Regions from separate parts of the Homo sapiens genome. Here all the other regions are linked to region 1. The links come from fine-mapping of genetic effects on gene expression. A gene starts in region 1. Each other region holds a variant in brackets. All regions are shown on one strand. Distances are between the middles of the regions.

The links. PIP is the estimated chance that this variant, and not a neighbour inherited with it, causes the effect.
Region 2: its variant is fine-mapped to the expression of RTL6 in whole blood (TOPMed, PIP above 0.99).
Region 3: its variant is fine-mapped to the expression of RTL6 in whole blood (TOPMed, PIP above 0.99). The same link has a PIP of 0.9 or more in T cells and blood mononuclear cells.

The regions. Positions count from the first base shown.
Region 1 is chr22:44,492,683-44,502,970 of GRCh38, forward strand. RTL6 (retrotransposon Gag like 6) reads right to left here and starts at 5,551. Exons shown (of 2, transcript NM_032287.3): 1 at 5,362-5,551; 2 at 1-5,129. The coding sequence starts at 4,874. The coding sequence ends at 4,155. RefSeq lists enhancers at 2,667-3,444, 3,445-4,222 and silencers at 5,482-5,611, 5,702-5,761.
Region 2 is chr22:44,465,383-44,475,670 of GRCh38, forward strand. No RefSeq gene overlaps it. Among named protein-coding and RNA genes, the nearest start is that of LINC01656, 27 kb to the left of the region's middle. The variant G/T (reference allele first, on the strand shown) is at 4,380.
Region 3 is chr22:44,449,061-44,459,348 of GRCh38, forward strand. No RefSeq gene overlaps it. Among named protein-coding and RNA genes, the nearest start is that of LINC01656, 11 kb to the left of the region's middle. RefSeq lists enhancers at 1-986, 455-594, 6,527-6,676. The variant A/G (reference allele first, on the strand shown) is at 6,518.

The DNA.
Region 1 (10,288 bases):
GAAATACAATCGCTCCACATGAAAGATGTTCAACCGTGCTAGAAGTCAGTGAAATGCCAACTGAAACACGATGCTATTTTTTCATTATCAAATTAGCAAATATTTAGCCAGATGATAATTCCCAATACGGGCAAGATGGACATGTTTATCCTTGCTGGTGGCAGTGTAAGGGGATACAAATATTTCCGGAAACCATTTTGTCAATATGTAGTAAAAGCCTCAAAGGTTTTCATATTCTTTAGTTGAAGAATCCCACCTCCTGGAGTCTACCCTAATAACTTGACATTGGGAAACAGCCTGTGCACAAAGATATTCATCAATTTATAACTGAAAAGTTAGTAACAGCATTAGTGATTGGCAACTGGCACAATGGTCCATCTAGTCAATGGGAGAGTACACAGCCACTCCAAAATAAAATATTTAGTAATCATAAGGGGAGATGCCCACGATATGCTAAGTGAAAACAGCTGCACAAAACTGTATCATTACAGAAGACAGCAACAAAACTATGTTAAAACAAAAAGCAAAGAAACCATAGTTGGGGGGGAAAGCCTGAGAGACACCAAAATGTGATGTTTTATTTCCTTCTTTCCTCTACTTGCAAAAATTTATCTAACATGTGGTTTACATGGGTAATGAGAAGACCTAGTAGGTTTGGTGCTTGTGTATGCAAAGGCATGAGGCACACGGAAGTGAGGAGCTGGGTTTCCTCCCATCTCTACCGCATCTGCGCTGTGCCAACTGCCACCCCACCCAAACTCAGGTCCCCAAGAGACAGAGACACAGGGGCTGTCTGTTCCACGTGGAAGGCCCTACACCCCAACCTTCTCCCCTACTCTGGGGAGCTTCTCCTGTTGGCCCAACAGTCTGCTCTTGCTTCCCTTACCCAGGAGACCCACCTTGTGCCTACCTCTCTAAGTCCCTAAACCAGTGCTTTCCAAGCAGAGGTGCCATGAGCCTTACAACTGTGGTTGCAGATGGAGGCGCCTCCATTAGGATCTCTTCCCTCTTCCACCCAGAGCTCTGCCCCCAGTCAGTGGCTGCAGCATGGGCCCTTTTGTCCAATCCCAGGGCTTGTTCCCTAAGTCAACCTCAGCACATGCCCAGCTCAGCCATGTCCCTTCACTCCCCTACAGGCTGGAACTGCCAGGGTGGTGCCCACCCAAGGCGGCTGTCTGCCATGACAACAGGAGCGTGTGCGTCAGGCTGGTCCTGCCGCACTTTCTGGGTTTTGTTTTCCACTCCTCCTCATTGCTCATCACATACTTACCTGGGGACAATGAAATAGGTCTTTGCTATTCCCTAGAAGTCACCAAAATGCTTTAGGACATTAAGTTAGTCCCAGGGTCACACTATACTAGGCCAGGGAGTCACCCCTTCACTAACTCCCATCTCCAGTGATACCCTGGTATGCACTGAAGCCTACTTACCAAAGGGGTACCATGTGGACCAGACAGCAGTCACAATACAGTCCAAAGAATGTCAAAACCATGGAAAACAGAACTTTCCTTCACATGCACTGTTGAACACTACTGCCTGTCCCTTTTATCAATCAATACCCGTTCTCCTAAAATTTAGAGAAATTATAACCCCAAAATATGTACAAAGCATCTCCCTTCCCCCACTTTCTTAGCCTGATCCCCTATCACTGAGGTCTCCCTCTGGGGCTGCGCCTCATCCTCCTTAGCTGGAGACTAACGTATCTTCCACTAGAGCCACCATGGGGTCCTCACCTCTCCAATGTGGGCTTCTTCCAAGTCCAAGGTGGAGGGCAAGCCCCGACCCTCTCTCATCTGCTCCGTGTTCCAAAGTGCAGGGAGCTATCAAGAAGGTCCTAAGTGCATACCAGCACTCGTCCCAAGCCCACACACATAAGCACCAAGAGAAAAAACACAAATCACCATGCCAAACAAAGGTGGAGCAGCTGCTTGGATTGGGTGCCCATAGGCAGAGGGCCCGGCTGCAGTTGTGGACAGGGAGTGTGTGGACAGGGAGTGTGTGGACAGGGAGTGTGTGGACAGGGAGCGTGGCCGGCCTTTCCTAGGCAGCTGTAGGATGTGAAGCAGCACAGGCCTGACACAGACATGGTAGGGCTTTCAAAAAGCCACTCGAGTAGAGTGAGCGCTGGCGACACAGCAGAGTTCCCACCCTGCTTCCATGCTGGGCTGGGCCACATGGAAACCTTCCAGGTGCCTTTTCCCAGGTGCCACTGTACCCCTTCACTTGGGGGCACCTCTCCCTGGCAGGTACTAGTCTTACCAATATAGCTGCTGGAGACAGAACAGAACTGAGCACAAAGAGAAAGTGATCTGTACACCTCCCATTCATGGAATGGTGGCCCTGCTGTGTGTCTTCCCTCCGATCACGCTTAAAGAGCACCATGGTCCCACCTGAACAGCCTTGGCTGGAGTCCAGGGGAACCTAAAGCCTGTATTCAGGCAGTTGTTCAGCAGGGCAATTGGGCTAACAGAGTTGATGGTGAGTGGGTGGCAGTAGTCTGCGGACCCCAGCAACCACTGAATGTCCTTGACCTTGCAAGGCAGCGGTTCTTCAGAATCGCAGTCACTTTTCCCAGCATCATCAAAACTCTTAAGAAGCCAGGCCCAAGGACCCAATCTCTGGGATCCCAAGACATATACATGTCTTTAGGTGGGTGCGGAGGTTGTCCTTCTGCAATCAAGCCAAGACCCTTCAGACAGGGGCAGCTGAGCCCAGGATAGGAAGCCCTATGGTCCAGGTCATGTCAATGTGGTTCATTTGGCATTGAAATATGGCGGAACAGCACAGTCCAAAGGGCGTGGCCAAACTCAGCCACAAAATGATTTCTTGGTCATCCCCCTGTGAGGAAGGATGAGGTCCTTCAGAAGGAGGACATGCATGCCAGTGCTGCATTGTCACCACACTAGGACCACGGCAGTCCACAGCTCTTTGCTTTTACAAATGCCACCAAGACCCTGGCTGGGTTGCCAGAGGCAGACACCCCCCCCGGCCTTAAGTGCTTAAGGATGTTTCCCGAAGGGAGTCTGTTTTCCCTTGGACAAAGGCAGCCCATCTGATTGCCCAGGCACGGGGAGTACATGCTACAAGGTGCCTTTGGAGACCCACAGATGGTGCGTGGGTGGCTGCAGGGCTGCAGTGAAGGCCACATGGCACCTGAATAGAGATGGGAACAGGTCTCAAGCTGGGCAAGGCTCGCCATCAGTGACAGGGGGTAGAAGCAGGAGTGACTGAGCATCAGCCGCTGTGGCACTGCCCATGGAGATCCTGGGCAGCAAAGGGAGTCGCTGGTATCCACCCTTAGCCTGCTATGACCCTCAGGCGTGGGTGTGTAGGAACCTGCAGCCTGATAGACCTGCCCAATGGCTGAGAGTCCACCACGACCTTATTTAGCAGGCAAGTTCCAGATTCCCCAAGCCTCTGGCTCCATCAGAACACCAGCAGCTGAAGTCAGGCATTAACAGAGGTGCAACATTGGTCCTTCCCAGTGAGAGCAGTGGGGCCTCCCAGACTGCATATTCATGTGCAGAGTGGAACCTGGCCCCCAGACATGGCAGAACTACGCTCCTTGCAGCAACCACTCGACCACTACAGCACAGATGAGGCCCTGCCCGCTGCACCGGGCCCTGGCAGGGCTGGGAGGCATCTTGGGCAGGAAGCCAGACCCCCTCTCCAGGTACACCCATCAAGCCACCAGCCTGGCCAAACGGGCATCTTTCTGTCCAGAGCTCATCAATAGGAACTGGGCAACCAGGTGGGGAGCCGCCAGGGGAGCTTGGAGAGGGCAGAGTAGGAGCCTCCATGAACCAAGTCAGGCTGGAAGGGGTCAGCCCTCGTGGTCCGTCAGCGTGCGGCGGAGTCCCTGTGCCTAAGTAGCAGAGCGGTAGTCATTGAAACAGGCCGGGATGCCAGCAAGAGGGAGGCGAGCATGCAGTGAGCGATAGGTACAAAGCTAGCACGTAAGAGGAAGCACGGCAAGGTGGGCAACCAGGGCGCCAGGAAGGACGGAAGGAAGATCTCCTCGGGGAACACGTCTGGAGAGGCAAGAAGGGAGGTCTTCAAACAGGGGCAAAGCTGTCGTATGGGCATTTCTTCTACACAGCAAAGAGCGTATGCTACCTGGGTGGCTGCAGACGCTACCAAGTGCTGGCGGATTCTTAAAGATTCCGTGCTCGGGCAGGCAGGGCTGGCGCTGGACTAGTCCCGTTGGAAGCTGGATGCACTGGGCAAGGCCCCGTGCCCGCAGAGGCCAGCTGGCGGCAGAGCATCTGCCTCTCTCGCACAGCCCTATTAGAGGCAGAAGTCTTCCTGATTTGGGCGCGCCGCGCATGCCGGAGCGGAGACTTGTAGGTTCTCCGCAACTCTGCCAGGAACCCCTGATAGTTGTTGCGCAAGGGGCTGTCAGGTTGCATGTGGGGGATAGCCCACTTCTCCGCCTCCCCAGTCAGTCGAGACACAAGGAAGGCCACACGCTCGGCCTCACCCGGGAAGCGGGAGGCCTGGAAGATCATGAATCTGTCCATCTGCATCAGGAACCCCGCCAACCGGCCTGGGTCCCCGGAAAAGGGCTCGGGCAGAGAGGTTGGAGGTGTGGTCATGGGTCGAGTCCCGTTTGAAGTAATTGAGGAGATGGGCGGGGTGATCTGCAGAGCCCCCGGGATCCGCGCCCTGGTGCGTAACAAGGTCAGCTCTGCCATCACGCTCTCCAGCATGTTGGTGAGATTGGCCTTCTCCGCCCGCAGGGTGGAAGCCTCCCGCCTCAGCGCCGAGTTGGTGAGGCGCAGGGAGGTCAGGGTGTCAATAACGTCATCCATCTGGGCATTCGGAGACGCTGCCAAGGCTGGGCTTTCAGCTTTGGACGTCTGCGGCTGCACCATGCTGGCCAGAGGTCAGCCACACGCTGAGATCCGCGGGTGGACCAAGAGGGTGTGGTGACCAGGTGGGCCCCTGTAGAAATGGGGGCAGTGTGGGGTGCACGACGGCAGGGCGCTGCGAGACCCCCAAGCCGAGGGCCCGAGAGAGGGGCACGCGGTGCCAGGCCCTAGGGACTTCGGCCCCGGTCCCACGCGGCTCCTTTACTGCAGACTTCGCGGACTACGGAGCCAGACGGGTGGCTGGACCTGCTCTGGGCCCTGGAGGATTAAGAAAAGATGTTTTCAAGGTTTCAGTTGCGACTAGCGGGCAGGAGGGTGAGGGGCGGCGTGGAGGGCCCGCGCGTGGGTGGCGAGGCTGCACAAAGCCCCGCGGCGCCCGCCCCGCGCCCGCCCGGGGGAGAACAAAGGGGGCTGCTCCTTGGCGGCCGCGGGCCTGGGGGCCACCACAGTGGCGGGGCCCGGCCGGGCAGGGGGCCGGGGGCACGCGTACCTGGGGTCTCGCGGTTCCTCCGCGGCTCTGTCCGCCGCCGGCCGTGACCAAGATGGCCCGCGCGGGGGACGCGGCCAGGCCGATGAATCACCGCGCGGACCGCCGAGAACTGCTTCCCGGTCAGCGCAGCCAAGCGACGGCGCTGGCGATGGCGGCGGGCGGCCTCCGGCAGGTGCAGGGACCGGGCCAGGCCGGGGCCGGGGCAGGGGCGGGGCCGGGGTCGCGGCAGAGGGCGGGTCACCGCGCGGCCTTTGTGCGGGCGGGGCCGGCGCGGTGGCGGTGGCGGGCGGGCCTTAGGCTGGCCCCGCTGGTTGCCATGGATACCGACCGCTCCCGCGCGTGCGGAGACGACCGCTGCCCCGCCCCCGGAAGTGATGCACAAAGTCCCACCCCCCCCCACCCCCCAACTCGGGCTGCTGCCAATCGGGGAAGACTGTAGTTGCTGCGGCGTCTTCATCAGGGCGGGTACCTGGTGTTCTCCCAGTCATTCCTCCCAAGAGGGCTTGCAAGGCTCTTTCTGTGGTTGTCATTGGGTTTATTTTTTTGATGATTTACTGTTCTTCTTATTTTTTTTTTTTTTTGAGACGGAGTCTCGCTCTGTCGCCTAGGCTGGAGTGCAGTGGCGCGATCCTGAGTCACTGCAACCTCCGCCTCCCGGGTTCAAGCGATTCTTCTGCCTCAGCCACCCAAGTAACTGGGATTACAGGCGCGTGCTACCATGCCCGGCTAATTTTTGTATTTTTAGTAGAGACGGGGTTTCACCTTGTTGGCCTGGCCAGTCTCCAACTCCTGACCTCAGGGCATCCGCCTGCCTTGGCCTCCCAAAGTTCTGGGATTACAGGCGTGAGCCACTGCATCAGGCCCTTATTGTGATTTGAATATAAATTTAATGTAACAAATCTTGATGTAAGAGAAGTAAAAAAAACTTTATACTACTCAGACTCCCTCCACCTAAAGATAGCAAATAGTAATACATATATATGTAACGTAGAGATAGTAATATTTCTGTACTTCCATCCAGTCATTTTTCTATGATATGTTCTACAAAATATTTTTTACCTTATGAATATTTTGTAACCATAACAGCACATTGAATTTTGAGCATTTTCCTATTAAAGATAGTTCAGAAGCATGATTTTCAGTTATTGCCTGTGGTCCATGGAACTCCTGTACCGCAAAGTATTTAGCCATGCCCTTTTTGATAGATCCTTATCTTGTTTACCATGCTAAAGTTTTATAAACTACACTTGTATATAAATCCCCACCCTTTTCTCTGCTGGGTTCCCCAGAGTAAATACCAAGGAGTGAAGATACCTGGCTGATATGGTTTGGCTGTGTCTCCACCCAAATCTCATCTTGAGTCGTAACTCCCACAATTCCCACATCGTGGGAGGAACCTGGTGGAAGGTGATCGAATTATGTGGGCAGGTCTTTTCTGCACTCTTCTTGTGATAGTGAGTGAGTCTCAAGAGATCTGATGGTTTTAAAAAGGGAAGTTTCCGGCCGGGCACAATGGCTCACGTCTGTACTCCCAGCACTTTGGGAGGCCAAGGCGGGTGGATCACGAGGTCAGGAGATCGAGACCATCCTGGCTAACATGGTGAAACCCCGTCTCTACTAAAAATACAAAAAATTAGCCAGGCGTGGTGGTGGGCGCCTGTAGTCCCAGCTACTTGGGAGGCTGAGCCAGGAGAATGGCGTGAACCCAGGAGGCGGAGCTTGCAGTGAGCAGACATTGCACCACTGTACTCCAGCCTGGGCAACAGAGCAAAAGTCCATCTCAAAAAAAAATTAAAAAAAAAAAAAAGGGAAGTTTCCCTGCACAAGTTCTCTCTTTGCCTGCCGCCATCCATGTAAGACCTGACTTGCTCCTCCGTGCCTTTCACCTTCTGCCGTCATTGTGAGCCTCCCCACCACACAGAACTGTAAGTCCAATAAACCTCTTTCTTTTGTAAATTGCCCAGTCTCAGGTATGTCTTTATCAGCAGCGTGAAAACAGACTAATACACTGGCCAAAGGGTAAGAACTGTTTGATTCCGGGTCTGGATTCCCAGCTTGACCTAGGTGATCCTTCTGCATGGTCAGTTTCAAGCTGGCATGGCTGGAGAGAAAAGATACTGAGAAATAAAAATAAAAATTTAAGCCCCCCCCCCCCAACCAACTGAACAGACCCCCTCTTGGCCAGGGGACCCCAGAGAAACCTGGGAAGCCGAGTTCCTGGCCATGATGGGATGGGAGGTTGGACACACTTCATTATCTGCCCCCGCTCCATAACCGATAACCACCATTAGGCTTTTTTCCTTAAGAGTTAAACAGAAACAAGCCTCTTTGAAAGACTTCAACATTGATACCAACCAACCATCTGACACTGCCCCTCCCTTTTTGTGGCACACAACAACTGACCAGCATTCTTTCCTAGTAAGAGACCACCAACCCTGGAGTGGTTCTGGCCAGCCTGTGGAGGATGTGCAGTGAAAGCTTTTGTGTCCTCTGATACACCTTTTGACATTAGAGGGCTGAAAACTCCACCTTCAGATCACGCTAACACTGCCATTTTTTGTAGGTGCTACCCATGAAGGGGGATGAAGCTCAGTTGCACATGTGCATATTTCTCTTCTCATAAATATTTATAACTCCTCCTGTAGCTTATTGAATATGTATATTTGGCCACCCTGATCAACATAAATTCCTGTCTTACTCTTCCAACCCTTGAAGTGCCTGTTTATGGCTTCTGGCCAGAGGCTACACTTCCCAGCCTATTCAAATGGCCACTCTGCAGGGTGCAACCTTTTATGATAAATAAAACTCTCCTTTCCAGGTTTATGAACCTCGTCATTCTTCAGTTAACAATACCCAGTATGCCAGTCTTTTGAGGACACAGTATTCAAGGAGGCTGAAGCTGGGAACCATCTGCACTCTTTAGGCAGGCCTGGGACAGAGCTGGATTCACTCAGACCTGCAGTTTTCACTCAAGGGAATTAGGGCATAAGGATGTTGTTACTGAGCAAGTGGTCTTGCTGCCTGATGCACACGGAAGCCGATACATATGGCACCAGCTTTTGAGAAAAGAAAAGCTTTATTGCAAAACTGACCAGCAAGGAGAGAGGAGGTGGGCTCAAATCCGTCTCCCTGATTTGAGGTATGGGGCAAGTTTTAAGGGATCAGGTGGCAAGAGAAAGTATTTATCAATGCTGGCTTGCCAGGGTCTGATTGGAGGGCTTCAAATTTGACCATATGTGGTAATGTATATTAAAGTAGATTTTAGCCCCAGACCTTCCAGGCTGATGGACCCCTTTGCTTGTGAATGAGTTCTGGTTTTCAACTTCTGGTCATGTCCCAGTCTTCTTGGTTCTAAGAGGACGAATCATTGGTTCTGGGTGTTGTTGGAGGTCAAAGTTTTTTCTACGGCACATGCCCAGGCTACATGACTTGCAGTTTTGGGCTCTGTTCTACCTAAAAGGCAGCTTGACATTTTGTTACCAACAGGGTAGGCCCAGTTTGGGCTGGTCCCACAACTACAGTGTCAGAACTTGGAAAGGATACTTGTACCCCAGTGTGCCAAAGTGTGCACCCTTTGTGACCAGGTGAAAACTTCTAGAGCATGAAGCAAGAGGGAAATAAAGAAGACTGTGTGTCCTTAAACTTCTTCCATGAGACCTTCTAAATCAGATGGGGGCAGGAGCTGTGTTAACCTTGACTGAGGTCAATGACTTCAAAAGCAGAAATGAGCCTGCAGCCTTCTACCCCTCCAGGTTCTTCTAAACACACAGAGGAATCCCATCCACTCGTGGGAGTCACTCCATCTGTCTCTCTGTCTCTCTGTCTGTCTAGGCCCCTGGATACTGGGCACATTAGTGAAGTGTCTGCTGCAATTCTAAGTGTGGTTGACACCATGAATCTTAAATTCCCAGGTGCATTGAATATAAGATGCACCCCAATTTCAGAAATGATAAAACATTTAAAGAAATAAATAATTTATCTGTATTTCACTTTACTTCCAAGGGGAAATTAGATGGCAGCCCATAAAATAGAGCAAAATAAAAATTAATGGACTTTTAAAAGTAAAAACAGGAGAAGAATATTTGGCTTCTCATCCAGATGAAGCTATGATTCATGCCCTGAGGTGCCTGTCTGGGCTGTGAACACAGAACAATAAAATATGCAAAGAAAATATTGAAAGGATATAAGTGGGCTCCAATCGATAAACAAGATAAACTTCACAATGGTCCAGAAACACAAACTTCTGAGTATTGACGTGGGCCTGCCGGGCTCTGGACCTGAGACATAATAGGGACCCAAGGCTGGGAACACAGCCAGGCTTCCTATTTGAATCCAGGGGATGGAGGAGAGAGGAGTCACCCCTGTGTCAGAAAAAAAGTCTGAAAAATTGGATTCAGTCATTTCATGGGGGTGGGGTGTGACAGTTTATGTGAAAGTGTGGCCCTGGGTCAAAGGAGAACACAGATATAGTCATCTTAATCTCTTGTCCCCTGGTTTAACAAGTAGACCAAGAGGGTCAGGATTCCAAACCACCAACAAAATATATATACACATATATATTATACACATATATGTATATATGTATGTATATGTGTATGTGTGTGTATATATAATATGCATATATGTGTGTGTATATATATATATTTCTTTACCACAGACCAGACATCAAGTGGACCCACCCCAAACTGCTAGATGGGGGAAGGGAGTACCAAGAGAGAAAGAGAGACAAAGTCTTTCAACACAAAATGAGTCTGAGATTCAAAATTCTGAAGCCCATGAAGACATCTTATGCTAAGAATAATAGTCAAGAAAAATCAATAACTGTAAGGTGAATTAACTCCAGAGGAAATTAAAATAATAGAAGAGTCTGAAAAAAACAGACTTTAAAGTAAGTATATTTGGGATGCTCAGTGAGAACAAGGAAGGA
Region 2 (10,288 bases), 27 kb before region 1:
CCCCATTTAATGGTCTTAACATCTTTGTCAAAAATCAATTGACTATAAATGTGAAGATTCATTTCTGGATTCTCAATTCTATTTCATTGATATATATGTCTATTCTTATGTCAATACCACACTGCTTTGAGTACTGTAGCTTTATAGTAAATTTTGAAATAAGGAAGTGTGAATCCTCTAACTCTGCTCTTTATTTCCAAGAGTGTTTTACATATCCTGGATCCCTTAGTGTCTATATAAATTATTGGGTCAGATTGTCAATTTGTGCAAAGAAGCAAGCCTGGATTTTGGCAGTGATTACAATGAATTTATAGATCATTTTGGGAGTATAAAACAATATAAATTATTATATAAAAATATAGATATAAATATAAATAATAAATTAAATTAATTATTAATTATTAATATAAATTAATTATTAATTTATTAATAATAAATATTGCAAATATAAACAATAATAAAAATTATTGTGATTATATAAATTAATTATATTAACAATATTAATTACTCTGATCCATGAACATGGGATATGTTTCCATTTATTTAGATTTTCTTTAATTTCTTTCAACAATGTTTTATAGCTTTCAGAATATATATTTTTTACTTCTTTGTTAAGTGTATCTGTAAGTATTTTGTTCCTTTTAGTGCTATTGTAAGTAAATTTTCTTAATTTCATTTCAGATTGCTCATTGCTATTGTATAAAAATATAATATATTTTTGCATATTGATCTTGTGTTCTGAAACTTTCTAAACTCATTTCTTAGTTCTACTTTTCGTGTGTGTGAATTGCTTAGGATTTTCTGCACAAAAGGTTATGTAATCTGCAAATAAAAATAATTTTACCTTTTCCTTTCCAATGCAGATTCCTCTTTTATTGCCTAACTGTCCTGGCTAGAACTCCCAGTACAATGTTGAACAGAAGCAGTGAGGGTGAACTCTAATCCTAGTCTGAGTATTTTTATCATGAAAGAGTGTTGAATTTTGTCAAAAGCTTTTTTTTTTTTTTTGAGACGGAGTCTCTCTCTGTCACCCAGGCTGGAGTGCAGTGGCACGATCTCGGCTCACTGCAACCTCCGCCTCCCAGGTTCACGCCATTCTCCTGCCTCAGCCTCCCGAGTAGCTGGACTACAGGCGCCCGCCACCACGCCCGGCTAATTTTTTGTATTTTTGGTAGAGATGGGGTTTCACCGTGTTACCCAGGATGATCTCGATCTCCTGACCTCATGATCCGCCCGCCTCGGCCTCCCAAATTGCTGCGATTACACACGTGAACCACCACGCCAGGCCTGTCAAATGCTTTTTCTGCATCTATTGAGATGGTCATGTGGTTTACTGCTGTACTGATATGGTGTATTATACTAATTGTTTCTGGGTGTTAAATCAACCTTGCCTATAGGGATAAATTCCAAATGGTCATGGTGGACAATCCTTGTTGGATTCTATTTGCTAGTATTTTATTGCAGACTTTTTGTATCTATATTCATAAAAGATATTAGTCTGTAGTTTTGTAATGTCTTTGTCTGGTTTTGGCATCAGGAAAATAGTAGCCTCATAGAATGAGTTGTGAAAGTTTTCCCTCTTCTTTGATTTTTCTGGAATAACTCATAAATAATTGATATTAATTCTTTCTTAAATGTTTGGCAGTGAAGCAATTTGGACCAATGCTCTTCTTTGTGGAAAGTTGTTTTCTTTTAAAAAAAAAAAAAAAAGTTACTAATTTAATCTCTTTATTTATCTGTTCAGATTTTCTATTTCTCCTTGAGTCAGTTTTGGTAGTTTGTGTCTTTCTAAGAAATTATCCATTTCATCTAAGTCATCGAATTTACTGGCATATGATTGTTCATAGTATTTAAATGGCATCTTTTAAATTTCCATTTGCTGTTTGTTTCTAGTATACAAAAATACAACTCACTTTTGTATATTGACTTACTAGACTCTCTAATGAATTCCAATAATGTACCTGTAGAATCTCTAGACTTGCTACATGCATGAGCAAATTCTCTGTAAATAATGATGAATCTGTTTCCTCATTTCCAATCCTTATGACCTCATTTCTTTGTATTGCCTTACAGTAAGGCTTGATTTTCAGTCCAATGCTGAAGAGAAGTGGGGGAGCAGGTATCTTTATCTAGCTGCCAATTTTAAAAGGAAGGTTTTCAGCATTTTACCAATAAATACATGTCTTCTATAGTTTTTGTAGCTACCATTTATCAGATTAAATTTTTTCTTTTTTTTTCTTTTTCTTTATTTTTTTATCATTTTGAGACAGGGTCTCACTCTGTCACCCAGACTGGAGGGCAGTGGCATGATCGTGGCTCCCTGCAACCTCTGCCTCTCCAGTTCAAGCGATTCTCGTGCCTCAGCCTCCTGACTAGCTGGGAATATAAGCACGCGCCCCCAAGCCCAGCTAATTTTTGTATTTTTAATACAGACGGAGTTTTGCCTGTTGGCCAGGCTGGTCTCTAACTCCTGACTTCAGGTCACCCACTTGCCTCAGCCTCCCAAAGTCTCGGCCTCCCAAAGTGCTGGGATTACAGGCGTGAACCACTGTGCTCAGCCTATATTTCTAGTTTTCTAAGAGTTTCTTTTTTCGTAAATGGAGTTTGGGCTTTGTCAAATGTTTTTTCTGCATCTATCGAAATGAACATTTACTTTTTCTCCTTCAACTGTTAATGTGGCAAGTAACATTTGAGTTTACAATGTTAAATCTACCTTGTAGGTGGGTCACTTTTCTAATGTTTTGTTTAGAATTTTTGCATCTGTGTTTTGCGTGAGGTTGCCTGTAATTTTTCTTTCTTGTGTTGTCTACCCTCTTCTCTTTTTCATATCAAATTAAATTGGCCTCCTAAAATGGATCAGGTAATCTTCCCTTTTTTTCTTTCTCTAGAAGAGGTTGTGTATTAGAAGTGTTATTTGCAGGGCAGGATTCTCTGGTGAAGCCATCTGGACTTGGAGTTTTCTTTGTGGGAAGGTTTTTAGTTAAAAGTCAATGGTTATAAGATTATCCAGATTTTCTTTTTCTTGTGCCAATTTTGGAGCATGTGTTTTTCTAGAAGTTTATCCATTTTATGTAAAGTTTCAATTAAATTGCTACAGTTTTTCCTGATAGCCTCTATTTAGTTTCCTATAGCTGCTACAACCATTTATCACCAACTTGGTGGCTTAAAACAACACATATTTATTATTTTACAATCTGGAGGCCAGAAGACCAAAATGGGTTACACTGGGCTGAATCAGGGTGTCAGCGGGGCCATGCTCCCTCCAGAGGCTCTAGAAATGCACCCATTTCTTTGCTTTTCACAGCTTCCAGAGGCCACCTATACTCCTTAGCTTGTGCGTAGCCACTTCTCTTATCTTCAAAGATGCCATTTAAATACTATGAACAATCATATGCCAATAAATTAGATGACTTAGATGAAATGGATAATTTCTTAGAAAGACACAAACTACCAAAACTGACTCAAGGAAAAATAGAAAATCTGAGCAAATAAATAAAGAGATTAAATTGGTAATTTAAAAAAAAATCCCACAAAGACGAGCCTTGGTCCAGATGGCTTCACTTCCAAACATTTAAGAAAGAATTAATACCAATTATTTATAATTGGTATTATAAATGCCAATTAACTATGGTGATGGTTGCAGAACCCATTATAAACCCTCCAGGCTCTGCTTCCATCACAGACTTCTCTTCCAGTGTTAAACCTCCCTCCACCTTCCTCTGGCCTGGAATACTTGTCCTAAGCACTTGACTCTATCTGGCTATCACAGATACATGCATGAGATCATCATTTGTGCTGAGAGTCTCTAGGGAAAGAGACTCAAACAAGTGACTCCTTGTCTCTTAAGTGTTTTCAAAGAATTAATTGCTGATTTCATTAATTTTCTCTTACTTTTTTCTATTTCATTAATTTCTAAGCTCATCTTTATTATTTTCCCCTTTCTATTTGGTGTTTGTTTGTTTGTTTGTTTGTTTTTGAGACGGAGTCTTGCTCTGTAGCCAGGCCGGAGTGCAACGGTGCGATCTCCGCTCACTGCAACCTCTGCCTCCCGGGTTCAAGCAATTTCCCTGCCTCAGCCTCCCAAGTAGCTGGGACTACAGGCGTGTGCCACCATGCCTGGCTAATTTTTTGTATTTTAGTAGAGTCGGGGTTTCACAATGTTGGCCAGGATGGTCTCAATCTCCTGACCTTGTCATCTGCCTGCCTCAGCCTCCCAAAGTGCTGGGATTACAGGTGTGAGCCACCACGCCTGGCCTATTTTTCTGGTTTTATGGTTGTATTATTATTTTTTATTTTTTTATTTTTGAGATGGAGTCTCACTCTGTCACCAGGCTGGAGTGCAGTGGCACAATCTCAGCTCACTGCAACCTCCTCCTCCC[G/T]GGTTCAAGCGATTCTCCTGCCTCAGCCTCCTGAGTAGCTGGGACTACAGGTAGGTGCCACCATGCCCAGCTAATTTTTGTATTTTTAGTAGAGACGGGATTCCACCATGTTGGCCAGGATGGTCTCGATCTCTTGACCTCGTCATCTGCCCACCTCGGCCTCCCAAACTGCTGGGATTACAGGTGTGAGCCACAGCACCAGGCCTGGTTTTATTTTTGAGGCATCATGTTGTCTGGGCTGGAGTGCAACAGCGTGACCATGGCTCACAGCAGCCTCAATCTCCCAGGCTCAAGTGATCCTCCCACTTCATCCTCCTAAGCGGATGGGAGTACAGGTGTGCACCACCATGCCCAGCTAATTATTATTTTTATTATTATTTTGGAGAGACGGGGTCTCACTGTGTTGCCCAGGTTGGTCTCAAATTCCTGAACTCAAGCTATCCTCCCACCTCGGGATCCCAAAGTGCTGGGAATACAGGCATAAGCCACTGTTCCTAGCCCTGGTTTGATTATTATTTTTTTTAACTCCTTAAGATGATTGCTTAGCCCATTGATTCCCAGCCTTGATTATTTTCTAAAGTAAATATTTATGGCTGTAACTTTCTAAGTGCTGCTTAGCTGCCTCCCATATGTTTTGATGTGCCTTGCTTTTATTTTCATTTCATTCAAAACATTTTCTAATTTGCATGATGATTTTTCTTGACCTGTGAATTACTTAGATGAGTATTTCTTAATTCATAGTTGCTATCTTGTGTCAGATTTTTATGTATGATTTCAGTCCTTTAAAGTGTATTAAGATTGTTTTATGGCCAAAAATGAGGTCAATTTTAAAATAATCTTTCGTGTGTGCTTGAAAATAATGTACATTCTGCAGTTGGATGCAAATTTCTCTATATGCCAATTAGGCCAAGTCTGTTGGTGGTGTATTTCAAATCTTCCGTATGCATACTGATTTTGTGTCAGCTTATTATACCAATTACGGAGACCTTGCACTAAGACTGTGAATTTGTCTGCTGCTCCTTGTGGTTCTGTCATTTTTCTTTAGCTATCTTGAGGCTTTGTTATTGGGTACATACAAATATACAATTGCTATATTTTTCTGATGAACATAACCTTTATCATTATAAAGGGCTTATGCTATCCAATGACTTTTCCTTTCGTGCTATTTTGCCTACCAGACGTAAAGCTAGACTGACTTTGTTCTGGTTAGTGTTTGCAGGGTATGTGTTTTTCCATCCTTTTACTTTTCACTTTTCCGCATTCTTAAGTTTTACATGTATCTCCTGAAAACAGCATGTAGAGTTTTGAAAACCCATCCTGACAAGCTTTGTCTTTCAACTGGAGAAACTGCCCATGTAGTTTCAGTCTAATTGCTGATAAATTTCCCTTTTTCAATCCTACTTTGTATATCTATCTAACCTCTTCTATGTTATTTTTCACTCTGTTCTTGCCCTTTGGGATTGATTATATATTTTATTATTCCATTTTTGTCCTGTCTTAGTTTGACAATTCTATTGCGGCTTACCTAGAAATTTCAATACCCTTCCTTTTCTTGTTAGCATGAAATATTAATTGCTACTTTTCCACTTCCCCAGGAAATGCAAGGATCTACGATCTGTCTAATTCCATTACCCCCTTTCCAAGTTATACGCTCTTGTGTTTCTATATGTTCCATATATTTTAATATAATATACTCCATATATTTTAAGCTCCATAAGAATGTATATACAGTTTGTTCTCATTTCGGTTTTTTAAACAACTTTATCGAAATATAATTTGCATACCATATAGTTCCGCTGTTTAAAGTGTACAATTCAATGTTTTTAAGTTATTTGCAAAGTTCTGCAACCATTACCATAGTTAAATTTAGAGCATTTTTATCATCCCCAAAAGACACCTTGTACCCATTAGCAGCCACTCCCCATGACCCACCTCCCAACTTCTCCTCACCCTCCTCCTTGCCCCTAGCAAACACCAATTCACTTTCTGTGTCTGTAAAGGGCCTAATTTAACATTTCATATAAGTGGGGTAATAAAACACACAGTCTTTTGTGTCTGGCTTCACTGTGCAGAATGTTTTCAAGAGCGCCCATATTATAGCATATTTCGGCACTTCATTCCTTTTTATTGGTGAATAATGTTGCACTGCAGAAATATAACCCCTTTTGTTTATTCACTATTGATGGATGTTTATGTTTTTTCCATTTGTTGTCTTTTATGAATAATGCTGCTATAAACATCTGTGTAGAAGTTTTTAGGTGGACATATGCTTTCAATTCTCTTGGGTATATACCCAGAAGTGGAATTACCGGGTCATACACTAAGTCCATGTTTAACCATTTGCAGATCCACCAGACTGTTTTTCAAAGTGGCAGCGTCACTTCACATTCCCAGCAGCAATGTACGAGGGTTCTAATTTCTTTACATCCTCATTGCTGTAGTTTTAATGATGGGGTCCCTCCAAAATTCGTGTTGAAACCAAATCCCCGATGATACAGCAGTGTTAAGAGGTGTGGCCTTTGAGGGGTGAGTGGAAGTGGTACCTTTGTAAAAGGGCTCAAGGCTGGAGGGAGGGCTCTCTTGCCTTCTGTCTCTTCTGCCGTGGGAGGCCACAGTATTCCTCCCCACTAAAGGATGCTACAACAAGACGCCATTTTGGAAGCAGAGAGCAGCCCTCACCAGACACCAATCCTGCTGACACCTTGATCTTGGACCTTCTGGCCTCCAGAACTGTGAGAAATAAATTTCTGGTCTTTATAAATTACCCAGTCTATGGTATTCTGTTGTACTAGCACAAACAGACTAAGACAGAAATGGGTACCAGGAGTAGAGTATTGCTATATATGTATATATATATACATACCTGAAAATGTGAATGTGGCTTTAGAACTGGGCAATGGATAGAGGCTGAAACAGTTTTGAAGTGAGTGCTGGAAAAACCCTGTATTTCATTAAGGGAAATTCTGGTGAGGGCTGGGTCTTCCCAGAAAAGAGCTGTAGAGATTATCTGAGTAGGTCAAGCACAGAATGTTGGTAGAAACATGAACAGGAAAGGCCATTCTGATAAGGTCTTGGACAGAAATGAGGAATTTCTTATTGGAAACTGGAGGAAAGGCCATCTTTGTTACAAAGTGGCAGAAAAGTTGTCTGAATTTTATCTGTGCCCTGCTGCTCTGTGAAAGCAGAATTCAAAAGTGATGAACTAGGATATTTGGCAAAGAAAAACTCTAAGCATGGCTGCGTGGCTTCTCTTAACTGCTTATAAAATACAAGAAAAGAGAAACGAGTTAAAGACAGGATTCATTATCAAAAGGGAAGCAGAACATAAAGATGTGGAAAATCTCAGCCTGGCCATGTGAAGGATGAAACCGCATGTTTAGGGGAGAAAATTAAGGGTATGGCTAAGCTACACTTGGATAAAGAGATTAGCATGGATAGAAGGGAGGCAGATACTATCCATCAAAGCAATGGAAAAATGGCCCATTTCAGAGTCAATTGATGGCATTTCAGAGATCTTCCGTCCTCAAGATTTCAGAGATCTGCTACAAGTCTCACAGGCCCAGAGGGCCACATTCTTGAGGGTAGCAGAGTTCAAAGGGAGGGTTTCAGGATACTCACGGGACGTCAGAGCTCGCTGCCCACTGCTGCCTCAAGTCTCAAAAATGCTCCCTACATTTTTGTGCAGTGCTCCTTGGCCACCCCAGCCATAGCCCAAGTGGACCCAGATGTGGCTCAGGCTGCCACTCTAGAAGGCATAAGCAATAAGCCTTGGCAGTATCCACTTGGTGCTAACTTTGCAGGCAGAGCTCATGCACAGAGAGTGTATGAGCTGTGGATCCATGGCTACCTCAACCTAGATTTCAAAGGATATCTCAGAGAGCCTCGGGGCCCAGGCAGAGAAATGCTGCAGGGGCAGGACCACTGCAGAGTCCCCACTAGGGCAATGCCTAGTGAAGTCAGGGCCACCACGGAGAGCCCCTACTAGGCCAGAAGAAAGGGGCACCAGGGGAATGTCCAGTGGGGCCACGGGAGTGGGGCTGTTCTCGAGACCTCAGAACTGTGGAGCCATTGGAGTATGATCCCAGCCTGGGAGAGGGGCAGTCACCAAACTCCAACCCATGAGAGCTGCTGTGTGGACCACCCAGCAAAGCCATTAGGGAAGGGATCCCTGGAAACGTTAAAGGACCAACTCCCACCTAAGTGTCTAGAAGGCAGGACATGGAGTCAAAGAAGATTATTCTCAAAACTTTAAGTGATTTTTTTTTTTTTTTTAGAGACAGGGTCTCACTGTGTTGCCCAGGGTGGCCTTGGATTCCTAGATTCAAGCATTCCTCCCACCTTAACCTCTCCAAGTAGCTGAGACTGCAGGCACACACCACTGCACCCAGCTCAAGCTCTAAGGTTTAATGTTGTTTTCCTGTTGGGTTTTGGATTTACTTGAAACTTGTTACCCTTTTCTTCTTGCCTATTTCTCTCTTTTGGAATGGCAGTACCTATCCTATACTTCTCCCACCATTGTATCTTGGAAGCACATCACTTGTTTGATTTCAGTCTCACAGCTGTAGAGGAATTTGCCTACGGATGAATGGTACCTTGAGTCCCATCTGTATCTGAGTTAGATGATATTTACATGAGACTTTGGACTTAGACATTAAAGTTGATGCTAGAATGAGCTAAGAATCTTTGAGGCTGTTGGGATGGAATACATGTATTTTGTTTGTGCAAATAACATGAATTTTGGAGGCTAGGACAGAATGTTATGGTTTGAATGATGGTGTCCTCTCCAAAACTCACGCCCAGTGCAACAGTAAATTAAAAGGTGCAGCCTTTGGGAGGTGATTAAGACAGAAGGGTTCTATGCTCATGATTGGGATTAGCACCCTCTCTTGCCTTCTGTCTCTTCTGCCATGTGAGGCCACAGGGTTCCTCTCCTCTGGAGGATGCTGCAACAAGATGCCATTTTGGAAACCGACGGTAGCCCTCACCAGATATCAATCCTGCCGGCACCTGGATCTTGGACTTTCTAGCCTCCAGAACTGTGAGAAATAAATTTCTGTTCTTTACAAATTACCCAGTCTGTGGTATTCTGTTACAGGAGCAAAAATGGACTAAGAGACTTACCAACATTTGTTATTGTCTATCCTTTTGATGATAGCCATTCTGGCAGGTGTGAAGTAGCATCTCATTGTGATAATTTTTGCCTATATTTACCCACATATTTGCATTGTAGTCCTCTTTTTTGCTGCAAGTCTGACCTTTGTTGGGGTCATTTTCCTCATGCCAACAGAACACTTTCTAGTATTTTCTTTACATAGGTCTACCTACTATTGATGAATTTTCTTAGTTTTAGTCTGTCTGAAAATGTTTTTATTTCATCTTCATATTTCTATCTTTCTACTTTAAACTTTCTTCTAGTTATACTTGAAGTCAGTTGCTTCCAGATAGCATTTAGTTGGGTCATTTTTAAGATTTACTCCACCAACCTGTCTTTTCATTAGTGTATTAAGACTATTTACATTTAATGTAATTATTGATATTTCAGAGGTTAAGTTTGTCATTTTTTTCCTGTGTGTCTCCTCTAATTTTGTTTCTCTGTTTTTTTCTCTGCATCCCTGTGGAGCATTTGAACACTTTTTTAGGATTCCATTTTGATTTGTCTATAGTATATTCAAGTGTTCCTCTTTGTGTAGATTTTTTGTGGATGCTCTAGGCACTACAATATACATACATAACCTATGGTCTACTGGTGTCAACCTTTTATCAGTTAAAGTGAAATATAGAAACTTTACTTCCCTTGGAGTCCATTTACCCTCCCATTTAAAATATTATTTCCTAAATATTTCTTCTACATACATTGAGAACCATAGTGAATGATGTTATAAGTTTTGCTTCAATCCTTGAACACAGTT
Region 3 (10,288 bases), 44 kb before region 1:
TTGCTCCAGTCTACCCGCCCCCTGACCTGTCAGCAATGCCTCTGAGAGACGGTGGGCAGAAGGGCAGTCATCCATGGATCCCCGAGCCAGGGCCCTTGCACATGACCTCAGATGAGAGGCCGATGGTGCCAAGGCCTTCTGAGTCAGGCTTGGGTTCAAATTCCTGCTCCACCACTGGGTGATGAAGTACAGGACCTCCTTCCCGCGTGGTTAGAGGGCACTCCGCACCCTGTCCATCCTGGTAAGTCACTTACTTTGGCCAATGGAATCAAGTGAATGCCATGTGACCAAAGGCCTTAAGAGTGCCCTTGAGGTTTGCACTCCGGTGATCGGCCCCGAGATCGGCTGGAGCAGCCTGGGCCAGGAGCTGACCCAGACCCGTCCCTGTCGACCGCACACAGGCCGAGGTTGAGTCACCCGGGCAAAGCCAGTTGGGATCAGCGGAACCACAGTCAACCTGCAGACCCGGAAAAGGGGAAATCACATGCCTGCTGTGCGTGCTGCCCAGGCCTGGGGTGTCTGTGAAACTGGCTTAGTTTGGAAATTCCTGACTCATTCTCTGAACTGCTGATTCATTCTCTGAGCTTCGGCATCTTTGTCTATTAAATGCTCCCTCCTTTCAGGGTTCCTGGAGCATGATCCGAATCAACCATGCTTCCTTTGAAACCCCAGGGTCGCCTGCAGAACAGATCTGCTACATGGGTGCATGTAGCCCCCCCACGCTGGAGGCTCTTTCTCTGCATGTCTGTCTCCCCTGAGGGACCAGGCCGTGCTCAAGGCAGGGCTGGATGGGCCCACATCCCTGCCCAGTGCCTGGCCCAGAGCCTGGCTTGGAGAAGGCGCCCAGGAAATGTCAGGTCCTTGCCACCAATAACCCTGCCTTTTAGGGCATTGTGTGGGGTCCGTCCATTGTTGAATCTGGAAGAACCCCCGGTGCTGTGGGGCCATCCCTCCTCCCTGAGCATGCGGGCACAGGTGCCAGGGCTGCCCATGCTGCATGAGGATTACAGGAATCCTGAAAGCAAAGGCTCGGCTTTGGGGTGGCTGTGGAGGGTGTGGCTTTAGCAGACTGGGAATCCTTTACATCCCAAACCCAGGACGCAAGCAAGGCTGGGTGTTCATAGCCTCAGCACACTGGGGCCTGGTGTCACCCTCAGCCCGGCCATCTACAGAGTCAGAATGCACCAGCCAGGGCAGCAGACAGAGCAAAAAAGACCAGGAAAGAGCCCATAAACTGGGGGTAGCATCCGGACCGTGGAACCGGCCGCCACCAGCATGAGTGGAATGGTCACCAAGAGCTATGAGGTCCCAGGGGGACTGCCTGGTCTGTTTCATCCCCTGCACACATCGCACATCAGGAAACTGAAGCTCAGGAAGGGCATGGCATGGCACATGTGAAGCCTCGGCTCAGCCAGCGACAGACTAGATGGGACAGGATCCACCAGGCTCACCCACAGGTTGATCAGTGTGCAGGGTCTCAGAGTCCAGTCTGAGCAGCCTTAGCTGGGACTGTCCATGCCATCCTGTCCAGCGGCCCCTCCCAAGTCCTGGAGGGAAGGCCACCTGCTCTGAGGGTGGGGTCGGGATGGTGACGGTGAGTCACAGTTGCCACCAGGCCAAAGAGACAGCCTCTATGTGGCCTTTCCCAGGCTGCGGGATGACAGGAGCCATGCCCTGGTGGCAACCGCTCCATGTCTGCAAGCTTCGAGATCGCCGTGCAATTCCAATCTGGGAAGGCCCCTTATAAGGAATTCCATTCTGGAAAGTCGCCGCCAAGCCAATCACTGAATCAAAAGGAGGAAGTCAACCTCTTCGGGTGGATTAAACCAAAGAGACATCCTGGGTACCTGTTATATGCTGGACACTCTTCTAGACTTGCTATTTAAACATGGATTCTTATGAGACAGGCATGATTATCCCCATTTTACTGATGAGAAAACTGAGTCCCAAAGAGGTGAAATAACTTGCCCAGGACGAAGTAGTAATATGAAAATGGAGATCTGTCCTGATTGTTCATTCATTCATTCATTCAATATATTTTTGTGTCTGATCTATGCCAGACACTGTGCACCTGAAAGGCCTCGCCTGTACCCTCTGCACCTACTGCCCCCAGCCTGCAGGCTGCTTGTTCATGCCTTCACGGCATGTTTGCCAAGCGCTCTGTGTGCACCACAGTCCGGCAACCTGTGGGAGACCCTGAGCCAGGAAACCCTTCTGAGCCCCCAGATGCCTGACCCCAGAAACAGCGAGACCATGGATGCTATTGATTTAAGCTTAGGGGTGATTTGTTATACAGCAATAGGTGACTCATAACTGGCACACACAAGATTCAGGCTGGGGAGGTCATTCTTGACAGAGTAGGAGCATTGCCATCTTGGACGAGCACCTTGATCAAAAACTGCCTAAATCCAAAGGGCATCAGCCTAACGGCCAAGGTCAGCATGACCATAAACCAAAAATGACATCCCTTCCTTCCTTCCTTCCTTCTTTCCTTCCTTCCTTCTTTCCTTCTTTCCTTCTTTCTTTCCTTCTTTCTTTCTTGCTTGCTTGCTTCTCACTCTGTCGCCCATGCTAGAGTGCAGTGGCATGATCTCAGCTCACTGCAACCTCCACCTCCCGGGTTCAAGTGATTCTTCTGCCTCAGCCTCCTGAATAGCTGGAACTATAGGCACCTGCCACCACACCCAGCTAATTTTTTGTATTTTTAGTAAAGATGGCATTTCACCATATTGGCCAGGCTGGTCTTGAACTCCTGACCTCATGATCCACCTGCCTTGGCCTCCCAAAGTGCTGGGATTACAGGCGTGAGCCACCACGCCTGGCCTCCTCTTTCTTTAACTCTTACAATTCTTCCATTCCACCAAGCAGGAAGCCAAGCCAAGGGGAGTGGGGGGCACTCAGGACCCAGAGTCAAGCTGGGGGGTTGGCCTCTGATATGGTTTTGATGTGTGTCCCCTTCAAATCTCATGTTGGAATGTGATCCCCAGTGTTGGAGGTGGGGCCTGGTGGGAGGTGTGTAGGGCACAGGGGTGGGCCTCTCGTGAATGGCCTGGTGCCTTCCTCGCAGTAATGAGTGAGTTCTTGCTCTGAGTTCACACAGGTCTGGTTGTTTAAATGAGTGGGACCTCCCTCTCTATTGCTCACTCTCTCCATGTGATTCGCCGGCTCCTGCTTTGCCTTCCGCCATGATTGTAAGTTTCCTGAGGCCTCCCCAGAAGCAGATGCCGGCTCCATGCTGCTTGTACAGCCTACAGGACTGTGAGCCAAATAAACCTTTCTTCAGAAATCACCCAGTCTTGGGTATTCACATTCCTTTATAGCAATGCAAATGGCCTATTCCAGCCTCCTAGCTCTGTTCCTTCTGGCTCTGTAAGTGACTTTCCTCTGAGCTTTGTTTCCTCATCAAGAAAAATGGAGAGGCCTCTCCGTAGGGGTGTACAGGGGGTCAAGAGAGGTCTTGGGGGCTGAGCCTCAATGTGGGTCTGTGTGATGGGAAAGATTTTGCTTTCCGGTTGTTGTCCGGTTTGCTTTCTACAAATTTGTCAGCTGCAAGCTCTCTCCCTGAAGCTGCCTTTAATTGGGTTGAGAAGGCACGATTTGCCAGGTGAATGAGTTGAGAGGGTGGGTCGGGGGCAGCTCCCTGGTGCCTGCTGCACACTTGCACCTGGAACAAGTCTCTGGCACAGGATATATGGTCCTTCCCACCACTGGTTGGGTTGAAGGAGTCACAGAGAGAAGGGTGCCCCTGTCCACCCTGCAGTGCCCACGGCCGATACTGTTATGCCCCAGAACAGCCGGACCTACTCTTCCTTGTCTGCCCCATTCCAATTCATCAGGGCTCAGATAAGAGCTTATCAGATATTATGAAATCACTCATCCACACAGACCAGACAGAGGGGCTGCCTCAGAGAAGCAGAAGGTTCTAGGATAGAGGCCAAGCCCAAGACAAACAAGTTTTTAGGTGATGCTGGAGAAGAGAGCCCACCAGCACTGGGGAAGAAAGAACCAGGACTTCTGGTTCTCCTCTCACTCCAGGTGCACACTCCTTTGAAATCAGGGGTGACCCTATGACCTGCTCTGTCTGCAGAAGTGATGAGTCACCTCCAGGGAGAAGCATTAAGGACCACTCTGCCTACCCCTTTCCACTGTAACGGACAGGGTGGCCCCGCACTCCCGACTTGCTGCTCCGGGATGTTGGTGCTCCAGTCAGCTGGGGCAGCTGAGCCATCCCTGGGAGACTGTGGCTCTGGGGAATCACCTGCACCTGTCGTGGACTTTGCTTGGGCAGAAACACATGTTTGACTGAAGCCACTGGGACTTTGACAGTTTGTTCCTGCAGCATCGTTGAAATCAACCTGATCGATGCAAATATATTGTCAAGTTGAAATGCAGGTTTCAAAATGGCATTGATTCATCCATCAGTTATTCATTGGGCCCCCACCTTCCCACCCCATGTCTGCAATTTCCAATTCCAGATTTAGGGGAGGGGGCGTTTAGAGTCCAAATCCCTCCCCCAACACACACGTAGGAAAACGAATGTGGGGATAACAGGGCCGCACTGTGGCGATGGCGGTGAGGCAGGGAATGGCAGTCCTGGTATGCAGTAGGGCCTCGCTCAATCTCAGCTCCTTTCTGAACTTTTCCTGCCCACACACCTGTCCTCGGGCCTCATCCAGGTGTCAGGGACAAAAAGCATTTTAATAGGGCAGGTATTATCATGTGGGCCCAGGACAATTCCTCTATATTAAAATCACAACCCAAACCTCTGTGAAGGAGACTCAGGCTATGTCAGGGCAAGTGGCCATGCCTGGGGACCACAGCATCACTGCACTGCAAGCTCCGGATTCCCACAGCCTGTGAGCTCCCCATGTGACCACCACAGCACAGGCTCGGCTAATTGGGTCCATGTGATGGGAAAGATCCCATGTGACCACCAGAGCACAGTTGGTCTATGTGATGGGAAAGATTTTGCCTTCCGGTTGCGTCCAGTTTGCTTTCTGCACATTTATCAGCTCCGAGCTCGCTCCCTAGAGCCACCTTTAATTGGGTTGAGAAGGTAACATGCGGAGCCGGCTGCATGTTGGCAAAAGCGCTTCTGCTGGCCTTGGATGGGAGGCTGGGGAGTCTAGACTGTCCCTTCATGGGGGCACGTGTGTTGCTGTACCATGATACTCGGGTGTGTGGATGCCCTTCAGGGTCCCCTCGATTCCGGGACCTGAGGGTTTGTGTGTCCAACTCCTTACTGAGGAGCCACAGCTCAGGGAGGGCAGGGGAAGGCAGAGGGTGCTGCCCATCCACGACAGCAATGGGGCTGCCCCTTAGAACCTTGCTGAAGTGGCCTGAGCCCTGTCACCCTTGCTATGGGACATCCAGTGTCCTCCCCATCCCAGGCACACGGACCACAAATAACTTCCCTTTTCTTTTAAGCTAGGGTTGCATTTCTGTTGCTTGCAACCTCAAAAGTCTATGCTGGCCGATTTGCAATGACTCAAAACTTGACTGCCTTCTTGCTACCATGGTACAGGGACAAGGGCCCAAGTAACTCTGGGAGCTGTTGGCAGCTATAAGGAAACCCCACTGGGGAAAAGCCCCTGCTTGGTGAAGGATTGATATGAGAGAATTACAGAGGAACATCTGGAGCACCAATGCCATTGAGAACCTCTAAACCAAACCACACCAGGAGCCTCTCTCCTGCTGGACATCTCGGTCCTGTGAGCTAATTTCTCTTTATTATTCTTTCCCTGTACTATGATAACTTCCATCCAGATTTGATGGAAGGACTGTAAATATTCCTGGAATGAGATCTTGAACTGGGAGATGAAGGCAGTCCCTGGAAGGCTGGAAGAGATTTTGGTTGTCTTCTTTGTGTTTATATGGATGTAGGCAACTTTGAATGTTCATGGGAAGAGGAAGGATCTGTATGAACCTTGGGTAGCCAAGGGCTGTGAGGACTATAATAAATAATCGTCACCTCCTAGCATTATTCTCCCTTCCCACCGTCCCCTATGTCCGTTTCGATGTCCAAGTAAACTGGCTCTACTCTCAGTCCCAGGGCTGGAGCATGTGATCTGATCTGAACCAGTCAGTGTATTCCATCCCCTGGCCTAGTAATTGGTTCCAATTTGGGGGTGGACTGAGATTGGTCCGATAAGAGTAATACCAGCCTCTGAGGAATGACTTGGACCTGTAGTGATATTTGCATGAGACAACGAAACTCTGTCTCTCTCAAAGGATGTTAATGAGGAGGCATGCAGGCCTGGGAGCCACTGGCAGACCTCTTTGGACTCTAAAGGGAGCCAGCTTTAGGATGAATCTGATGTCATAGAAAGGAAAGTAGAGGGAAAGCAAAAAACAAAAGTAGATATTCTGTTACATCATTGAACGGCTGAGTCACACTTCACCTGAGCCTTTCGGTTTAGCAAACGAATGTCATCTTGACATTTACTTTAAAAGCCCATTTGGGTTCTTGTGGTTTCCTGTTCTTTGCAACTGAAAACATCCTGAGCAGGTGGCTACC[A/G]TTATTATCCAGATTTTGAAGATAAGAAACTGTGGCACAAGAATATTAAGTGATAGGCCCAGGGCTACCGGGCTGGTAAACAGAGGTGGTAAACCCAGAACATGCAATGGTAGCCTCAACATATAACGATTGGCCACTTGCCATTTTCTTCTGCCTTTAGGAGGTTGGTCCTCTGCACTTCTGGTCTCCACTTGACACCCAGGAGGAGGTACCATCACACCCCAGGACCTGCTGTGCTGGCGTTGTGTTTCTGCCGGAGTCACCTCTGTGAGTCGCGGGAGAGCCAGTCACCTTCGTATGTGTGCACACGCATGCACGGTCACAGAGGAACGTGCCTCCAGGGGTTTACCGTGCATGAATACCCGGACTATTTGGATGCTTTTCTTCAGGTTCTGTAGTTCTCATGGTCATGAAGCCCTCCACTAATAGCAGTTCATTTTCTTGACTTATCTTTACAAAAATAGGGTCATAGGATTTTCCCACTTTACAGGGTGAGCAAACAGAGGCTCAGATGAGAAACCTGACTTACCACTGGTGGCAGAGTGGGAAGTCAAATCAAGACATCAGTCCAGCATTTTTGACTCATCCACTCGATCATTGGTTTTTAATCTTAAGACGACCATGACCCACACTCAGGGCAGAGAGTGAAATGGAGGGAGAGAATGAAAGCTTAAATTTAGGTTTAGAAATAAGCAGTCCAGGCACAGTGGCTCATGCCTGTAATCCCAGCACTTTGGGAGACCAAGATGGGCAGATCACCTGAAGTCAGGAGTTCGAGACCAGCCTGACCAACATGGTGAAACCCCGTCTCTACTAAAAATACAAAAAAATTAGCCAGGCGTGGTGGCAGGTGCCTGTAATCCCAGCTACTCAGGAGGCTGAGGCAGGAGTATCACTTGAACCAGGGAGGCAGAGGCTGCAGTGAGCCGAGATCGCACCATTGCACTCCAGACTGGGCAACAGAGTGAGACTCTGCCTCAAAAAAATAAAATAATAAAATAAAATAAAATAATCAGCTCTCAGTCCAGGAAAAAACCCTGGCTGGAGAGGGCCTAGATGTTCTGCACCTAGAATGATGGAGCCCTAGACAGGGCTGAAACATCTGTTGCTTCCTGATGCTGTTCAACCTGCTCCTGAAGATTCAGATGAGCCTCTTTCCAGAGGCTCAGAGGGTACATACGAACAGTTTATTCCTGGGACACTGAGTTTCGAGATGCCTTCCTGTTCAAAAAGAAGGCTGGGAGTAAAGCCTGGTAGGGGAGGTGCAGATGTTGGTCGGGACCCTTCAGATAGTTGTAGAGGGGGATGCAAGCTGGAGGGGAGGTGGTGGAGGCCTCAGGGACCCGGGGAGAAGGCCTGGATGGGCAGAGACTCTGGGAAGGGCCTGGAAGCCTGTCCGCAGATGTTCCTAGAAAAGCCCCATCATCTAGTTCTCCTAGACCCCAAGCAACTTTATAGAGCACATTTTAAAAGATATCATCTTGGGCAAAAGCTCCTTTTGTTCACTAGATCTTATTGAAAGCATCCCCAAATTTTAAATTCTTCACTTTGAATGGAAATCATATAGAAATATTATCACTATGTGCACTGAGATTTGGATGACCCTAAATCATCATTTTGAAGAAAAATGCTGAAAAGGCAATTATGTTTGAGCTAAAATAACAAAATGCATTAAACGTAAGCAGAATGAGTAAAATATCCTTACCCTTTCAAAAGAGAGAGACAGAAGAAAGGGCTCTGGCCCAGCACTTAACAAATCTTGGTTCTGTTTTTTTGTCACTCATTCATTCAACTCTTCATTCCTTTTTTTTTTTTTTTTTTTTTTTTTTTGAGACAGAGTCTCGCTCTGTCGCCCAGGGTGGAGTGAAGTGCCACAATCTCGGCTCACTGCAACCCCTGCCTCCTGCGTTCAAGTGATTCTCCTGCCTCAGCCTCCTGAGTAGCTGGGATTACAGGCGCCCGCCACCACGCCTGGCTAGTTTTTGTATTTTTAGTAGAGACGGGGTTTTACCATGTTGGCCAGGCTGGTCTTGAAATCCTGACCTCAGGTGATCCTCCCATCTCAGCCTCTCAAAGTGCTAGGATTACAGGCGTGAGCCACCATGCCTGGCCTCTTAATTTAATAAGCATTTGGTGAAAGCCTGTCTTGAGTTACGTACTGGCTATAATCCACAAAGAAGCTTCAGCTCCTGACCCGAAGGAGTTTACAGTGTAAGGTGCATTCAGTCCCTCAACCAACAATTGCACCATAGGCCGTGCTCTGTAAGGGATCACAGAGTCCCCCGGCTGAACGAGTTCAGGGACAGCCTTTCCCGTGATCTGACATTTAATGCAGGACCTTAGAGATTTTCTAGAAAAAGGCAGAAGGAAGCCTGGAGGAGAGAAAAAGTGATATCTTGGAACATGCATCTATATCTGGTGTGACTGCAACCACGTGTAGTATGTGGTGTGGCGTGTGTGTGTGCATGGGTGTGTGGCGTGTGAGTGACGAGTGTGCTGTGTGTATGTCTGGTGTCTGCGTGGGGTGTGTGCATGCACGTGTGTGCATGTGTTGGCACACAGGGAGGTTAAGCATGGTGGGAGGAGGATAAGCACGGTCCGGGTGACATCGGAGACATCCCTCCTGCAGCTCAGGGAGCCCTGGGGAGCTAGTGTGCCCACTGGGAGCATCTCCCTGTGCCACCTCCTCTGGGCCCATCTGGACTGGCTCCAAGGCAGGATGGGAGGGCTGAGCTCGAGCTACCCTATCTCCCAGCTGTGGGATTTCTCTAGGCCCTGCTCCCCTCAACCTCAGGTGGCTGTCTGAGAATTCAGTTTCTAAAGACTCCATGAGCCACAGGCAAAAGCCAGGGTCCTTACTCAGTCACAGCCTGAAATTTGGCTGTCGGCCTCCAGGCTCTGGTCTCTTAGCAACCAGCCATGTGGGCCCAGGGCAGCTGCAGGGCTCTGCTCCAGGCGGGCTACACCCAGGGGCTTTGGAGTGGGTCCCCAGGCCACCTCTGGCAGCTGAGGTGTGAGGACGGCCAGGCACCGTCCCTCTAGCCTTGACCTCACTCTCCTGGTTCCACCCCCAGCCCTGCTCCTGCACCTGAGCTGGCGTAGGAGTGCTGCCACAGCTCTGCCAAGCCCTGGGCGATCGGCCCGCGGGCCCTGGTGGAAAGAGCCTCTCTGAGCAAAGCTGCTGCATTTTCTCTTCTCCATGTTCAGTGTGCCCCACATGCTCACGTCTTCCTACCAAGCCCCCAAAGGCTCCAGCTTCTGCATGAGCTCCAGGGACCGTCAGCCAGGTGCTCTATTCCCAAGGGATGAGGGCTGGTGGACCCCATGCCTGCATCTGCCCATCTTCATCCTACATATCCTTCCAGGCCCAGTTCAGACACCACCTCCTCTATGAAGTCTTCCCCAGTGACCTTGTAGAAATTTCCCTTCACACGAGCCCAAGAGGCACCTCACTCTCATTCTGGCTTTTGCCCACAACTCAGAAGCTGGCATTACCTCTGCACCCACGAAGCCAGTCTTCCAGGTGCCCCATGTGGCATGTGGGCTTTCCTGGCTTTTCTTCTCATCTTCACTGACTGGGAAGTTGGTTCAACGGCGTCTCACCCTTGACAGGCTCAGAGACTGTCTTGCTCCAGGAAGTGAGAGAGAGAGAGTGTCTCAGAGAAGACCCTGATTGGCCAGTTTGGGTCACATGTCCGCCTCTGAGCTACACCCTGTGGGCAGCCCCAGGCACACACCTGCTGCTAGGATCTGCAAGCCCTATGATACAAG